Regions from separate parts of the Homo sapiens genome. Here region 1 is linked to region 2. Evidence: fine-mapped expression QTL. Tissue or cell type: spinal cord. Region 2 holds a variant in brackets; the other region holds the start of a gene. All regions are shown on one strand. Distances are from middle to middle.

Region 1 (4,244 bases), 91 kb after region 2:
GGACTAAAGACTTACCAGTGGCCCATGATCTTTATCATCGTTCTGGAGAGAAATGAAATGGTGGTGAAAGGAAGCCACCTTCCTTCTGCACTGCACTGTTATCACCTGCCGTCACAGTTGTTCCAAAGCATTTAATTACACATGTCACTATGCTGAGCACCGCACAAAAAGACTCATCTACAGATAAAATTCTTGTCCATTGGGAGCTCACGATATCAAGGACATTTTGATAGATATGTGAATTAGAACTTAATGGCAAGAAGAAAAAAAATACCAGTTAACATAAAACATCTTTAAAATGAGAAGGAGTATAATAAATTATTCCAGTTCTACAATTTTATAGACAAGAAGCCAAGGTTCACAGAGGTGAAAGGACCTGCCTGAGGTCCCTTAGTTGTGCAGAACTATGAGAAGGATCTTGAGGTCCCCAGATCTTGAGGTCCCAGGGCCCCTTCCTCTCAAGGTCACAAGATCCCACATTCCAGGCAGTGTTGTCCCTATTCATACACAACACAAGGTAAACTTGTGGGAGGCCAAGGCTGGAAGGACTGCTTGAGGCAAGGAGTTTGAAACCAGCCTGAGCAACATAGTGAGACTTCATCTCTACTATGTTGTAGAAAATTAAAAAAAAAAAAAAAATAGCTGGGCATAGTGGGTAAGGCAGGAGGGTTCCTTGAGCCCAGGAGTTCAAAGTTGCGGTGAGCTGTGATTGCACCACTGCACTCCAACCTGGGTGACGGGGCAAGAGTCTGTCAAAAACAAAAACAAAAAAGAAAGAAAAAAGAAAAAAGCCAAGGTAAATCGTACGTCTTAGACATGTGCAAAATGGCAGTGATGTTTTCATTTCACCTCTGTACACTAAAATACAAACAGACAATGAGTACTTTTCTTCTATGCAGTTTGAAAATACATGAACATTTTTATGGGGTTACAAGGAAGTATAATAATTAGCGGTGGAGTTCTAGAAGAATATTTTTAAAATGTGTGTCAAGGCATAGTAGGGGTATGAATGTGTCAGAATTAGCTAAGGAAGGTTCTGTGAGAAACTACATTTTCTTTTTCTTTTCTTTTTTTTTTTTTTTTTTCTTGAGACAGGGGCTGGCTCTGTCACCCAGACTGGATTGTAGTGGCGCCATCTTGGCTTACTGTGATCTCCGCCTCCCAGGCTCAAGCAATTCTCCTGCCTCAGCCACCCAAGTGGCTGGAACCACGGGTGCGCACCACCAAACCCAGATATTTTTAAGGAATTTTTTAGTAGAGATAGGGTTTCACCATGTTGCCCAGGCTGGTCTCGAATTCCTGAGCTCAGGCTACTGGCCTTCCTTGGCCTCCCAAAGTTGTGGGATTACAGGCGTGAGCCACAGTGCCCAGCCAGGAGCTACATTTTCTAGATTTTTTGTTCACATCCTCTAACTTGCTTCTCATAAGGGGAAGCCAAAGATTAGAATAAACTTCCAGGCCCTAGAATTAGACCTCTTAAGAAATCATTTATGTCCATTAGATTATTTCTGTTCGGTTTTTATTCTTTCCTATCACCAAGGAGGTTAATGTCTTCAACTGTCTGAGGAACTACACAAAGTTTACACTCAGAAAGCCCCTCCGCATGTCTACCCTGAATCTTTCTCGCTGCAGTTTAAATCACAGATGCTTCTATGATTGCTTTAGTGGATGTGGATTGACCAAGTCATGGGGAATAAACTCCTGCTTTGTTTTCTTTTGAAGAAGGTTCTCCATCTTCAGACTATAGAGCTTCTTCTCAAATACCAGGTACTTTGTACCTTTCCATTGTATCATATACACATGGATGAATTTAGGAAATTGACTTCTAAAAAGTGAATGAAAAAGAGGAGTAACATAGATGTTCTGAAACAGAAGTGACAGGAGGAGAAAATAGAAAGTTATTTACTATTTTCAAAGCAACTAAGTAGAAAGGTTGATGAAAGAGAGAAAAAAAAGCTGTCACTGAATGATATTTCCATTGGAGGGGAAAATAGGTACCAACAAATGAAAATTGCCTCATCTTTACAAGTTTCACTGAGCATGAAAATGTCCCTTTAAAATTTCCCATAAGCCATGGCTGGCTATGGGATTTTTCCAGTGCAAAGGGAATCTGAGTTCAGGAGGCCAGGGAATGCCAGGGGGAAAGGGATTTTCTGATACTCAGAAGACTCAGAGACTGTCAGTTTAAAAAATGAAAGTAATATAGAAGGGGCAAAGTGGCATTTATCATTCTATCTCTCCAGGCTCCTGTCTCTTTAATCAGCTAGCCTGATTTGCCCAGTAAATGATTCCTGAGAGTGTGTGTGCGTGTGTGTGTGTGTGTGTGCCCGCGCGCGTGTGTTGTAGCTCTGTCAATCCTTGGATTAGAACCAATGATTGCAGCTTGTAGGAGGGCTGTCCAGGGCCAGATTGTACAATGTGTCTCAGTGCCAGAGTATGAGTGGAGATAATTACGGAGAAGTCATACTCTCTCACACCCTCGGCTTTCTTGTTGTGTCCTTCAGCAAAACAGTGGATTTAAATCTCCTTGCACAAGCTTGAGAGCAACACAATCTATCAGGAAAGAAAGAAAGAAAAAAACCGAACCTGACAAAAAAGAAGAAAAAGAAGAAGAAAAAAAATCATGAAAACCATCCAGCCAAAAATGCACAATTCTATCTCTTGGGCAATCTTCACGGGGCTGGCTGCTCTGTGTCTCTTCCAAGGTAAGAGCTTGCTATTGATTTGCCTTCGGTAGACCCAGGAATTGTACAGTGTGCTTTATAAGATTTGCAGACTCCCCGAGTCGGCTGTGCTGCGCTGTTTGCAGGTGGAGGAGAGAGCGTTTAGACAGCATGGCTGGGACTTCATTCTCCCGACTAGGCTGTGAGAATATTGATTTGATTCTGGCTGCTACCGGAATGGGGGAATATGTATGTGCATAAGTAAAATGTGTTTGGTGCTCCTGTTAGGACTGTGCTTGTGTGCAAGGCTCCCTGGCTTCATGCACATTCTTGCACACATACACAACGGAGCACACATGTAAGCAGGGGGAAATGACAGATTCGGAGGGCAACAGGGTTGCTAATGTGTTGCTTATGCGACTGGGAAGAAATTACAAGAGGAAACTTTAAATATCGGCCAGCGAACTTGCAAAGCTTTTAAAAGGAGCAAAGGGGAAAATGCAGGCTAGAAAGAATCAGGTGCTTCCTGTGAGGTTCTGGTCAGCGATCCAGCTGCAAGGGATGAGTCAATTTGCAGCAGTGGGGGACAACTGTATTAGTTTTAAATGTGTTCGGGGGTGTGTTTGTGGCTGGGGTCGGAGGTGTGGAAGCGAGGGGAGCCGGGGCTCTGAAATTCTAAAAAGCTTTTCGAAGTTGAAGGGAGAGAGGCAATAAGAGTCGAATGCTAATTTTCTGTTTATTTATCGGCTGAGCCGGGAGCCCTGGGGGCTGCAGTTGAGTGCAAGCTTTGATGTCCCCAGTGCTGTGTTCTGTGCATTTGGAATCGGCCTCCACCTTGAGTCCATTTGCTGCACCGTGCCTCCCCACACCCCATCCCGGCTCTCACGTCTGTTCGTTCCAGCAACAGAATTATCCACTAATCTTCTTGCTCCCACCTGCCCTGTCCTTTGGGGTAACTAGTTTGCCTCTTTTATATTAAACACAGCTAAAACTCGTAAGGATCGAGACAAGCTGAGAAACTTTCCCAGGGTGGCCCAGCAGGGCTCCGGGAGGAGGAGCCCTCTCTTGGGAGGTGAGGCTCAGTCCTATGCAGTTGTATTCCCAGAGGAAAGTTCCCTCTGACCCGGTGAAAAACGATGGGGAGTCCCACCCCCTCGCCCTCTTCTCCCCCTGCAATATGGAGTTCTCCTGATCTGGACTGAGTCCTGAGCTGTAGTCCTGCTGGCTCTTCTCCGAGGTTAGGATTTAGGGATTGCTGCTGTCCTCTTGACATAGGTTGCAGTGGCTGCAGTGTGGATCCACGTAAGGTGGGCAGAGAGACCAGGCTGGAAGGATCAAATGTGTACACCCTTGACTGGGGCTCGATGAAGAAGGCAAGGGGTGGGGACAGGAGGGATCTGTGTCGGGTGATAAGGAAGTCCAAGGTGGTGAATCTTGCAGGGATGTCCATGATGTCGTCTGCTGCACCCAACCCCAGGAGGCATGGGCCTCAGGATTCCCTGCTGTCCCCTAGGGGCTTTGGTGGGTGTTTGAGTGAAGGGAATCAACTTGGAGGCATCCTCGATTGACTCCTCTTATATA
Region 2 (4,244 bases):
CATATGTAAACCAAGGGTTATTTATGCTGAAGGAAAATGAGTGCAGGTTTTTCATAAGAATGTGGTAAATACAAATTTTAGGTATAAACTCTTTCTTCTTCCCCCGACCCCAGAAGATCCAGTTTTCATGTGCCTATGACCCTTCTTGCCAAGATTTAGGCGTTAGCTTTCTGTAAGCACTGTCCTTGGGGGAGTTTAGATAAATACTGAAAAGTATAAATTTCTGTGTTATTAAATATATAATTTAATGTGCAGCAGAAACAATGGTCTTGAAAGTTTTTGATTTGCAAGTGCTGGGCTTCAGAGAGAAGAAAAGGCTCAGGGCATAAAATATGTGCCACACCAGCAGCTGGGTGGAAAATGCATGAGAGAGAAAAATTTAGGTTCCACACAACCAGAAGAGGTGACCCTTTCCAGTTGCAATGGTTTCCAGAGAGGTGTGGAAGTGAATATGAAGACAATGTCAAAGCTACGACATCAGGAAATAGGACCCCTCCCCTCCATCCCATCCTAGGATCAAGGGTGGGTGGAATATCCAAGAAGATAAGCTTAATATGAGGACGACAGAGAGGCTTCTACCTTCCTTCCCAGCTGCAGGTGTACTTGGGCAGGGGCTGCCTTAGCTGCAGGTTAGTCTGCATTGAGAGAGGTGCTAGACAGATGGGCCCAGGGGCAGCTTCACAGCATACAGGCAGCATGGTCCAGTGCCAAAAGAGCAACTGGGAGGTCCTGAGCCTGCAGCAAGGCACTAAGGGATGAGAGAGTAGGTAGAACTGGAGTAGCCTGTGCCTAAAACAGAGAGGATGCACAGTGTTTGCTCCTGGATCTCACAGAACATTCTGGAATGGTGGATATCAACAAAAGACACTAGGGGAAAATGACAAGGACCAGAGGAGGCAAGTACATCCCAAAGGTAACTGACAAATGTGGAGGGCAGGAAGGAGCCAGGTAGCAACCCCTGCAATAGTCCTGGATGGTAATATGCCTCCCCTCTTCCCCATCCTGTTTTGTTCTGACCACCGTCAGGATTGGGGGGTTGCATCCGAATGTGTGCTAGATGACAGCTCTAAGGTGATGTGTTAACAACAAGAGCTATAATCACTTAATTTATAGGGAAACTGTAGGGGGAAATTGGAAAACTGGACAATGGACAGAACTTTTAAATAATTAACGTGAAGACAGACTATACATACACACACGCGCACACACACACATACCACTCACACATATTCAGTCACTGAGGCAATTTCTGCTTATAGTGGAGAAACCAATGACATCAGTGACCAGGCTAAACCTATGCATTTTGTGGGTGAATTTAAATTTCAAGTGAGTGCAGAGTGTTTTGGATTATCTCCGCCAAGTTGCTGCCTAGCATGGCATGCCATTCATGTGCCTAGATCAATATAAATATGGATACCCCTATATGAACTAGGCAGGGAAAGTGGGACAATTTGACAGCCCCTTGCTGAGACACAGCGGCTTCCATCCCTGGGAAGGGCCTGAATAGCCCAGTGCAGCCCTGATGGACTATAAGCAAGAAAACAGCAGCCCGGAAAATGCAGATGCTTTGGAGATGCTGGCTTGACAGACTGAAGCCTGTTTGTCAAACAGGCTGTCACCTATCAGAGTTTTAAATAGGAGCTTTCTATGGGATGTTACGTAACTTGCTGGCTCACAACAGCCCCAGTGGAATGGAACGGGGGGCAGGGGGGGTGGGGGGCAGCGCCAATGAGAAGCAGCTGCGGGATAGAGGACAA[G/A]GCCCTGCTATTCTTTTCCTTAATGGATTCCCTGCCTCCTGCATTGCCATACTTGAACACACAACATGGGAATGGAGGTGCCTGCTCTTTAAGGGCTGTGTCAGTCAAGCAAGGGACATTACATGTGGCAAAGTTGGAAAGAGAGCAGGGTAGAAAGATATAGGTTCTCTGTGGTGGCTGGTCCCTTGGGCTAGTGCCCTGGGCGATGCGGGGTGCTCACCCCAGCGCTGCCCCTGGTCTACCAGGCCGGCATCGCCCTCCTACATACCATGTCCCAACTGAAGGCTGATGGTTGAACTCGGTTCTCCCCCTTTGGGAAGGGACGTAGGTTCAGTTCCACAGAGGGTGTGAGATGAGATGTTCATATGTTTGAAATCATGTAATGGTGTGTGTGTGTTTTTTTTTTAATGTTCTCTGGACATAATATTGCTGCTTTGGTTTGTCTTCTCTTCCAAGGAGGACCTAGTTCTTTTTTTCTTTTTTTGGGAGATGGAGTCTTACTCTGTTGCCCAGGCTGGAGTGCAGCAGTGCGATCTTGGCTCACTGCGAGCTCCGCCTCCCAGGTTCACACCATTCTCCTGCCTCATCCTCCCGAGTAGCTGGGACTACAGGCGCCCGCCACCACGCCTGGCTAATTTTTGTATTTTTAGTAGAGACGGGGTTTCACCCTGTCAGCCAGGATGGTCTCGATCTCTTGACCTCGTGATCCGCCCGTCTGAGCCTCCCAAAGTGCTGGGATTACAGGCGTGAGCCACCGTGCCAGGCCTAGGACCTAGTTCTTTACTGCCCCTTCAGTCAAGTTGAATCCAGTGAGAGAATCATCAGTCACAACTTACCCTATGTCAAGGTGTAGTCCTGAGAATCTATTAGTAAAGTAAGTTTGGAGATGAGTTTTATTTTAGAGGCCCTAGGGGAGTTGGCTATTTTAAAGACTCCTGATGTAAGAGCGAATAATTCTATTGTGATGGGATGAATCACTCTCTACTTTCTGATTTATCTGTTTTATAAGTTTGGAATTTTGCATATTAAGTTGTTCTTCCCTTATGTGTATTAGCCACATACTGCTGAGTCATCAAAGGGCCTGAAGCAGAAAGGAAGACTTTGGATGTAAGTTTTCACATAATCAAATTTTATGTAACCAAAAAGAAGAGCCCTGTTAATAGGTAAAGGGGCTGTACTAAAGTGACTGGAATTTTCATACATTTGTAGCAGTCACCCTGTGTTATATTGGGGTGACAGCATTCTCTGACATGGAAAGTTGAAGATGGTATACATAAGCTGTTGTTGAAAATTCATACGGATTGGTTATTGAGGCTGTCATAATTGAGTTGCAGTGTGGTGGCAGCTATGCCAGTGGAATAGCAGCAGTGCCTGGCAACACCCAGTTGTAGTGTACTATTTACAAAAACACAGTGATAACTTTCCTTGGTTAATCCCCTCCCACACTGACTCTGGGTCTGCCCATGCAATTTCTGATGGCTGATAAGACAATAGCAAATCGGGCATACCCAACAGCCTGAACATTTCTCATGTTTTGTGGTTTGCCCTTTTTGGCTGCTCTGGTGGATCCTGGGAACACCACCATGAGAAGGAGCTCAGGCTAACCTGTGGATAATGTGAGACATAGGAACAAGTCACCTTTATTGCCCCAGCAGACTTCCCCAACCACCAAATGAGGGAAGGCATCCTAGAACACATGGCCTCGTTTGAGCCACCAGCCGGTCACAGTGATCAACCAAGCCATTCCAGACAAACTGCCCAAAACTGTCCAGGCACCCTACCAGCATTCATGAAAAATAAGAAATGTTTGTTGTTCAAAGCCACAGGTTGGGGGCAATTTGTTAGGCAGCAAAAGCTAACTGATACACAAGTTAAGATCAGTAAGTTGTAGTATTTTGTTGGGGAGAGGAGAATTGTTAGGATGACTTGAAGTTGATCCTGCTTGGATACCAAAGCCATGTAACCCAGCAATAACTTCATTATATAATAGGGAATTTAAATACTAAAGAATTAATTTAGAAAAACTTACAGGGATTATGGTTAAATTAGACAGAGTTTTATTAAATAGTTAACCTAGTCACGTATATAAATGATTGAAATATTTATAATACAGGTGTGATGCTATCTCACAAAGGGATTAGCAGATTCCTGCAGCTATGGACAACTACAGGCAAAGTCTCAGAGTTGGTCCTATCTTGTACAGGTTTCTCCTGGGGCTTCATATTTGTCCCTGCAGCCTGGTCATCATCTTAGTGATAATAATGTCTCTAGAGAATGTTGGCTACCAGTGCTCTGTAATATCCCTCTTAACTAATTAAAGTCAAATTTATGTTGTTTCAGCCATTTTCTTTTAAAAGCTGCCGCTGCTACTGTTATGCTGTTATTATTAGTAGTGTTTATTATGTCTTTCAGCTATTCCTCTATTTTTGCCTTTGTATATCCACACATTGCAGGGCACTGTGGGTGTGAGACATTTGCTTCAGTCTT

Alleles and levels. Positions count from the first base shown, and alleles are read on the strand shown. Sizes are in standard deviations (SD) of each study's normalised expression.
With allele G in place of A in region 2, the expression in spinal cord of the gene that starts at base 2,432 in region 1 is lower (moderate effect, 0.65 SD a copy in GTEx).

The links. PIP is the estimated chance that this variant, and not a neighbour inherited with it, causes the effect.
Region 1: it holds the start of NTM, and the variant in region 2 is fine-mapped to the expression of NTM in spinal cord (GTEx, PIP above 0.99).

Annotation. Positions count from the first base shown.
Region 1 is chr11:131,368,184-131,372,427 of GRCh38, forward strand. NTM (neurotrimin) reads left to right here and starts at 2,432. Exons shown (of 9, transcript NM_001352005.2): 1 at 2,432-2,705. The coding sequence starts at 2,624.
Region 2 is chr11:131,277,061-131,281,304 of GRCh38, forward strand. No RefSeq gene overlaps it. Among named protein-coding and RNA genes, the nearest start is that of NTM, 91 kb to the right of the region's middle. The variant G/A (reference allele first, on the strand shown) is at 1,758.